Linked DNA regions of Homo sapiens: region 2 is linked to region 1. The links come from fine-mapping of genetic effects on gene expression. A gene starts in region 1. The other region holds a variant in brackets. All regions are shown on one strand. Distances are between the middles of the regions. Region 1 holds the start of SCIN (scinderin). Region 2 overlaps SCIN (scinderin).

Region 1 (4,404 bases):
AAACTGAACTCATATTGCAGAAAGAAAGACTGAAGTCTGTCAACACACACGGAGAGCTCTGCAGGCTTAACATACTTTGTCTCAGGCCACTGTATGTTCTTCAAACACATTGAATTCCCCTAAAAATCATTTTCTAACCCCCCAAATCACCCATACATCACCCATCTGCCTTTCCTCTAATAAGGAGGTACAACCCTCTGTACCTCATTGGGATATTGGCCAATCACTCTGTGATTCTCCCCCATGCCCGCTGATAAATTTGTATGCCATTTGTCCTGTTAATCTGCCTTTTGTGACTTGATTTTTCAGTGAAACTTCAGAGGGTAGAGGGGAAGTTTTCCCTTGGCCCCTACACTATGAACTGAGATAGACAAAATAAATTAGTATGTTTATAAAGTGGAATACCATATGGTCAGTAAAAACCGGTAGCTCTATGAGTACTGTGTGTTGATACACAGACACACACACACACACACACACACACACACACACACACACACACACGGGGGGGGATTCGAAAAGGTTATATGTTACATTTTCTGTTAAAAATTTAAAATAACTACATTACCTATATTCTTGTTGACAAAATTTGAGTGCCTGGAAAAATACATAAGAAACTGGTAACGTAATTGCCTTTGGGGAAAGCAACTGGGTGGCAGGGTGAAATGGAGATAATTTTTTATTGCACACATTTTGTACTTTTAATTTTTTTACCATGGTCATGTAATAACCTATTAAAAACATAATTTAATTAAGGAAAAAAATCTAATTTTGCATTATTATTGACCTTCCAGGGATTCATGTAATTTGAGAAATTGAATGAAAACAATTTTACATGCATGAAATTCAGCTTTCTTACTCTATACATCCTGAGTGATTTGCCTTTTTCAGTAACAGAATCCTTTGCTATACCAGCTTGTTAAATGAATGCCAAATCAAGAGTAAAATTTCCATCTGTATTCCATAGTGTTTTAGCCATGCTGCAAAAGCAAAACCTGTAGGTAAAACAAAGAAAATTATCACCTTGAAGCTAGGTAACAGGTAACCCAGAAGTCCGGCCAAGCATAAAATTACAGCCACAAACAGCCCTGCAGAGAACATCTCAGGACGGCGGCTGCTGGGTTTTTGTTGTTGTTTTCATCTTTCTTGGCCAAAGGAAGCAGGTGTTAAGAGAGCTCAACCACAGCTCCTGAACTCTGAGATTTACAGAGCTCTGTCACCTGGGGTAATACTGCCATTCTTCCAGGTTTTCTTCCTGTCCAAGAAATCTGACATGCTGTTTTTCATGGTATTTTCAAACTGGAAGATCGAGACAGAAACTTTGGTCGTCAGGAATGCAGAGATTGCCCAATGAAATGACAGAATTGATCATTAGGATGCTTGTTACTCAAAAAGCCCATTTTTTAAAGAAGGATGTATTAAAATTATTCCAGCATGCTAATGTGGCACACTCCTCTGCTGCCTAACGGCAGGTGTTGCTATTAGCAGAGGAAGCCTTGTTCTAAGAATTATTCTAGAGGGCCAGAAAGAACAGGTATTGCTCCACCCGAGTAAACGCTGACTCAACTCTGCAGGGCTGGCGCGCTCTTTCCTCACCTCACCCCTCCTGCCAGGCACAACTGAGATCCAGAAATAAGAGGATTAGCGAGAGAAGGGGAAATATGCAGGACGGTAGTGATGGGTATGCACAAAGGAGTGCCAAGCAGTTTTAACCGTTAATGTTCTTCGTCTATTGCTAGAGAAAATGTCTTTCCTTGGAGGAGGCATTGGCACGAGTTACTATAAACTCCCTCTGAATCTCAAGACTTCTGGGACGCCGATTCCGCTCCTGGCCTGGGGCAAGGCGTGGGAGCTTGGAAGCCAGCGCTGCGCTCCCCGTGGGAAGCGATCGTCTCCTCTGTCAACTCGCGCCTGGGCACTTAGCCCCTCCCGTTTCAGGGCGCCGCCTCCCCGGATGGCAAACACTATAAAGTGGCGGCGAATAAGGTTCCTCCTGCTGCTCTCGGTTTAGTCCAAGATCAGCGATATCACGCGTCCCCCGGAGCATCGCGTGCAGGAGCCATGGCGCGGGAGCTATACCACGAAGAGTTCGCCCGGGCGGGCAAGCAGGCGGGGCTGCAGGTCTGGAGGATTGAGAAGCTGGAGCTGGTGCCCGTGCCCCAGAGCGCTCACGGCGACTTCTACGTCGGGGATGCCTACCTGGTGCTGCACACGGCCAAGACGAGCCGAGGCTTCACCTACCACCTGCACTTCTGGCTCGGTAAGGGACGGCGGGCGGCGGGACCCCGACGCACCAAGGCCGGCGAGGGGAGGGCGTAGGGGTCTGAGATTTGCAGGCGTGGGAGTAAAGGGGACCGCAAACTGAGCTAGCCACTCGCGCCCCCACGGGGCTGCCCTTTGGGGCCGGCCACTTTCTCCCTACCGAAGTCAACTCGCCGGCTGCAAACGCGGGGCTCAGGCGTTGTCCGCAATTGACTTACCTCGCAGGCTTTGACCTTTGCCAGGTGTAGTTCCTGGACTTTGGAGCTGGTGACTGGCTTCTTCCCCTTTCACCGTCAAGTATCCAAACGCCACTCTTGTCCAGGGCCGCTGCCTCAGCGCACACCGTCTCTGGCCAAGCCCCGCTCACCTTCCGACAAACTCAGTCCTGCTTTCCCTGTCGGGATGGAGAGGAAGTCATAAAGTCTGGGGGCATCTGCCGCCGCTAGGAAGAAGTCCTTTTCTTTTTCTTCACACATTATTTTTATTTGTTGCTTTCGGGCACTGGCTTATTTTCTCTATGATTGCGGGAATTATTGTTCTGGGCTTCTTTAAAACAGGATTCTACCCGCACCATGCTGCTTGTGGGTCTGGTAGACAAAAACTCCGCTTCATTCGGAAGCTGGCGTCCTCAGATAGAAGTAAGAAAAAAATACAGATATTTTATATACAAATAAATAGCTCTATATGGGTATTTCATATATTTATGTAGACTGCTTTATTGTTATTATTTATTATTTATTTTAGCAAGGACACAAGATGGAACAGAAACGGCTCCTTCAGCAGTAGTAATTATTTTGAGCTGCGTTCGTGCCAGGCTGTCAGGACACTGGGCCTTGTGTGTTCTTTTTCCACCTTCTACTTTTACTCATAAACATCCTGAATGTCCAGCCTCTCCCCAGGAGGTCTTGTGCCAGTGGGCACACCCTGTCTAACAACATGCCGATTCTCTGAGCCTTTTTGCCTTCTTTTAAAACTAGCTAGCCTGCCCAGTACTCGTGTTTGTTTAGTTTTATCCCTGAGCTTAGGAGGAAAACACACAAAACCACACACACTTACACATTTTTGAGTCCCTGAAAGCCAACACTGTAATTTCCAACATTTGAAGATTTTAAGAAACAAAATAATAGAAAACATTGAGTAGTGACTGTCTAAACATTGGCAAACACCTGGAACAGGCATTTGAGAAATGAGAAATGAAAAATACGTAGATGAAGATAAGACTTTTAATTATAACATTTGGAGTCAAAAATTTGTGTTAGCTTGAGGAGGCAGAGAAGGCTCAGCCTGAGTTCTGAACACATTTTGGCTTCTTGATGCATTGCTGTTATTCCTATTATAATGTTGTAATACACAGTCATCTATTTGTATTTTCTGCCAGAAAAGACTGAAACTTTTATAACCCATGTTCAAGAATGAATGATGCCAGATAGAATAATGATGTCCTTACAGAGGACTTTCCATGCAGAACTTAAATCTAGCATGAATGAAAGTGTTTGAAATGCCACATTTGCCATTTGAGTAAATTAAAATGTGAAATAATGCCATATCTTACTGTAGACAGCAGTTAAGTTTGACTTTGTCAGATGACCGCAAGGGAGATTTGAACACAATTCTTTAATTCTATACATTTTTATCCAAGTTGTCCTCTTAACTACTATATTTTGTAGGGTTTACAGATTCACCTTATTCACTTAATTATCTACTTAATTATCCACTTGATGCCCATAAATTTCAAAAATATAATAGAAAATGGTTTGGGCAGAAACATTTATAATCTTAAAGACATGCTAAAACTGAAGTCAATAACATGTTAATAACAAGCAAATTCATTCAGTAATTATTCAATATGGCCAGTACTGTACAAGGCACTTGTGGATATGAATAATTAATGAAACTTCTCTAAAAGTTCATCACCTCAAAGGTGCAAAAAGACAAAAAGTGATATAACACAGGTAGAATGTGATAATTACTGTGAAAGCACAAAGTTTCTGTGGTTATTGGGAAACAGAAGCCTTTAGAGAAAAAAAAAATGAGAGTACTTGGAAGTGTTCTTGTGTCAAGAGAGAATTATGGAGAGAAAAAAAGCTTCAAGTAAAATAGTCAACAGGACTTTCAGATGGGATTGCCCAACAGCTCTTCCTA
Region 2 (4,404 bases), 48 kb after region 1:
TCAGAGAATTCGTTTTATAATCAAGGACTAATGACATCATAGACAACACAATTGTGGACTTCAATGAAAGGAAGAGATTACTATATCATATTCCTTTTTCTCAGCATTGTCACCTACTCTTCTGCTGATTGCATAAAAGACTTTTCTCCAGGTTTTGCCTGGAGAGGGATATACAGGTCTATATTCAATTTGTAGTTTAAATCTAAGATATAAGATTTTGACAAAGGTACATTACCAAGACATATAGACTGCTTTATAAAATCATTAGATCAGTACGTGAACAAATAATAAAGTGTAAGTCCATGAGGAGGTGTGTGGCAAGAAGTCCAGTGGTAAAATCATTATGCAAAGGATTAGTCCAGTAATTTGCAGGGTTGTATAAGACAGAAAGAGTAATGCTTTGACCAGGGAAAGATTTGACTCTGCATATGTAAAGGTGAAGAAAGGGTACAGGATCTACCATTTGTTGAATTTTCACCATATGCTAGTCATAGTAATAATCACATGATAATTGAGCCATATTATTTATTATACCATTTTAAGTGTGGAAATTAGATTACAGAGACTCTTAGTAGCGGCTCCACCCAGCTCAGCCTGCCTGATCCTGCCAAGTGAAGGGAGGTGTCAAAAAGACAATGGAAGAATGCACAGAAATTAGGAACCCCAAAGGCAAGTTTCGGAAGCGTTCATCCAAGCACTGATCAGACAGAAATGTCCAAAGTGGGTTTGAAGCCTTAGGGAAAAAGGTTTGGTGATGTCTAGAAAAGGCAAATGACCTGAAATCTTAATACCTGAGATTTGCCCCAGAGCAGCTCTCAGACCACCAGGCCCTAATAATTTGTCCAGGGGAGATGTGTTCTAACAAGCTAATGTGAACCTCAGAAATGCTTGGCAGACCTATCCCAATGGTTGAGGTAGATAAACCAGGCTAGCAAAGCTGATGCCACAGAGCACTTGAATCACATCACCAAAGCAGGCCTAGAAGGCTTTTCAAATATACAATGCATGGGCTCCAATCAGAATAAATAAATCTGAATTTCTAGAGATTGGATTCAGACATTGGCATTCTTTTTTATATCAGCCCAGATGGTTCTAATATGCAGCCAGTGAAAACAACTGCTCTTGTTTAATAAGTTGGCATTCTGGCTTATGGCTTTTAATGACTTGTGATTTTGCTTTCTGTGTTATAGTAACTTGTAAGGTAACTTTCCATATTATAGTAACTTTTGGGGTAATTTTCTTATGAGTTTGACCCTTCAACATCTATCCTCTAATACGCTGATATTCTAGGAATGCTGAAGTCCAGTCCTGCCTGATAAGTTCCCCACTGCCACAGCATTCCCTGAGGCCTCTAGGGCTGCACTCTGTGTCTGGCATCCTCAAGACATGAGTGACTATTTAAGTTTACATTTAAATTCCTTAAAATTAAATAAAATGTAAAATTCAGCTACTCAGTCACACTAGCCACATTTCAGGTACTCATTAGCTACAAATGGCTAGTGAGAACTGTGTGGGACAGCAAAGATGTGGAATATTTCATCATTGCAGAAATTTCTACAGGACAGCACTGCGCTATAGCTAAATCTCTTGCAGAAGCCCAGTTCACTTTGTCTTTTTATCCAAATATGCTTTCCTACCTCTAAAATACCTCACATGCTTTCCCTCCTCTAAAATACCTTTATCCATTCTTTAATATATGAAATCACCCTCTATTTTACTTATGAATAAAGGAATAAAGGTATTTTTGAGGCCATCACTGAGAGAGAGCAGCAGAGTAAATGTTGGAATCTTATATCCAGAGTGGGTGGAGCTGGCTAAATAAGACCACAGCTTTCTCGGAATAACTGGTCATTTTATATCTCTGTGGATCTTCCCTAATATCAAATATTTGTCT[T/C]ACCTAAGGCATAAAATGCCTTGCAGCAAGTAAATATACCATAACAACAAGGATTAGCTTCACTCTTACAATTTATTTCTATGCTCCCTATGTTACACTCTACTGATTGTTTCTCAGTTAAGGAAAAGAAGTAAGATACAGAATTTACAAATTAAAATGTTCATTCTTGGAACCTGTGAGCTGATTCTGTTTTTAGTGAAAATAAAACAGAGTCATCTACCCTAAAATGATTAAGATGAGAAGAATGAAATGCCTCATTTTCTATATAAAGAGCTTTGAAGTAGAGGTTAGAAGGCCTGGGGTTTACATATTTGCTTTAATATTTATGAGACACGGATCTAAGGCAAAACTCCTAACTTCCTTCAGGCTCATTTTCTTAATCTATGAAGTTAAAGTAATCATGATACAGGTTCTGCCTCTCTCTCAGAGTTCTGCTGGGAGCACATAAGACCCTCAATGATAAATGCCTTTAGGACTTGGCACCAGCTTGGCACATTTTCATCCACAGTGATATGTAGCTTTGAGTTACATATTGTGCTTCTTCAAGGTCATGCATCATTATTGTTTTCTTATGATGCATTACAAATATTTATTCTAAAGTGGCCAAACATCTTGACTTTTTTGTATAAAGAAGGGAAACCACATCTTGAGAACAAGCCAGTGTAAATGTTGGAAGTTTTTATCCAAAGTAGGTAAAGTTGACTAAAAGGTAAAAAATAAATAAATAAATAAAAACAGAGGTACATGCTGTGAAAAACTAAGGATTAAGAGAGTAAAAGAGTATAGCAATTGTTTCTTGGCTGCCTGATCCTTTTATCTGAAAATACAAATTTCCACATAAGCCTGCTTAAGTTTTAAAAAGAAAAGTTCACCTTGGATCATAGTAGGGAAAGAAATAAACAAACACCAAGGGTGGTCTTGAGACAGGTCATGAGAAACTCTGAAGCTGGTCGATTATTAATCTCCTAGCTAGCTACGGGGAAAGAATGGGCATGGCTTCCATATGGAATGCCGAGTATGTCAGCCTGATTAGAGACAGGTACAAGGTAGGGAATGCTGAGAAATAAGGCAGGGTAGATGACATTCAGCATCTGAAGGGGACTTGGGTTTCAGACAGAAGTTTTGGGTCAGTGGGAGCACCCAATTCAGAATAATCTAGATTGCAGATTCCTGGGCCTCACCATAGACCTGTTTATTTACTCAATGGCTGGCAGCTAAGAATCTGTATTTACAAAGTAACACAGGTGTTACTTGAGTACATTGAAGTTCAGGAACCACTGCAGCAGATGTAAAATATAAATCTTTTTTATTTTTTAGTTTTTTAAAATTTAAAAATAAATTTTAAATGTTTTCCTGCTTTATAAAGGGATAATTGACAAAGTTTGTACATATATATCTATCAAATGATAGACATATATGTACAAACTTTGTCATATACAAAATGTCATATACAAAATGTGATATTTTGATAGAAGTATAAGTTGTGAAATGATTACCACAATCAATATAATTAACATCTGTCAACTCACATTGTGTGTGTGTGATGAAAATATTTTGATATCTTCTCTCTTAGCAAATTTCAAGTATAAACTACATTATTAATAACTGTAACCATCATACTATACTTTGTCTCCAGAACTTATTTATCTTATACCTGAAAGTCTGAATTCTTTCACCAACATTTCTCCATTTCCTCTATTTTTCAGCCCCTGGCAATCACCATTCTACCACTCTATTTCTATGAATTGGATATTTTGGATTCCACATATTAATGAGATCATGCATTGTTTATCTTTTTGTGTCTGGCTTATTTCACTTAGCATAATATACAATAGGTTCATCCATGTTGTTGCAAATGACAGGATTTCCTTGATCTAGAGTCATATTCCTACAACATAGGAGTAATGTGAAATAAGGGGCCTTGCAGCCAGTGTCCAGGAATAAACAGGAATCAGTGACTAACCATGATTAAAAATAATAATAATGACTAAGTGGGTAGGAGATCCAAATTGGAGGAGAGGAAGTATTTAAAACTGACCACATAATTTTAAGTCCATATAAAGAGGAGAGAATAGAGATACATTGACACAAATGGAGAATTGAGAGTGGCTAATTTTGTAGAAAATAAGTTCAGTTTGGAGTATTTAGATGACGGCAATACTTTTAAACAGAAACTTACAGAAAGTAATTGAAAGAGGAGCTCCAAACTTGCAAGATACATCTTGGCTAGAACAACTGACGAAATTTTTATGTAACACCTTCAAATGAGGCTTCTCTGTGTTTGTACCCCATTAAATTGTCAAAATATATGTTATTTCACATACAAAGGATTACATGAGCTAAATGCCAATCGCGTGGGCAACCCAAAATGAAAATGTTTCACATTCAGGCATGATCTTCCAAGCTGTGTTTACAGTTTATGTCAAAGATCAAAATGTATGGCCTAGTTGATAAAGTGAACATATTTAGTTATGTTGCTCTTTCTACGCCAGATGTAAAGCCCTTAAGTG

Evidence for each region. PIP is the estimated chance that this variant, and not a neighbour inherited with it, causes the effect.
Region 2: its variant is the best candidate, but not a certain one, in a credible set for the expression of SCIN in minor salivary gland (GTEx, PIP 0.52).

The regions. Positions count from the first base shown.
Region 1 is chr7:12,568,726-12,573,129 of GRCh38, forward strand. It overlaps SCIN (scinderin), which reads left to right and starts at 1,995. Exons shown (of 16, transcript NM_001112706.3): 1 at 1,995-2,260. The coding sequence starts at 2,062. LOC107986768 reads right to left here. Exons shown (of 3, transcript XR_007060635.1): 3 at 1-2,656.
Region 2 is chr7:12,616,768-12,621,171 of GRCh38, forward strand. All of the region lies in intron 4 of SCIN (scinderin), which reads left to right. Among named protein-coding and RNA genes, the nearest start is that of SCIN, 48 kb to the left of the region's middle. The variant T/C (reference allele first, on the strand shown) is at 1,895.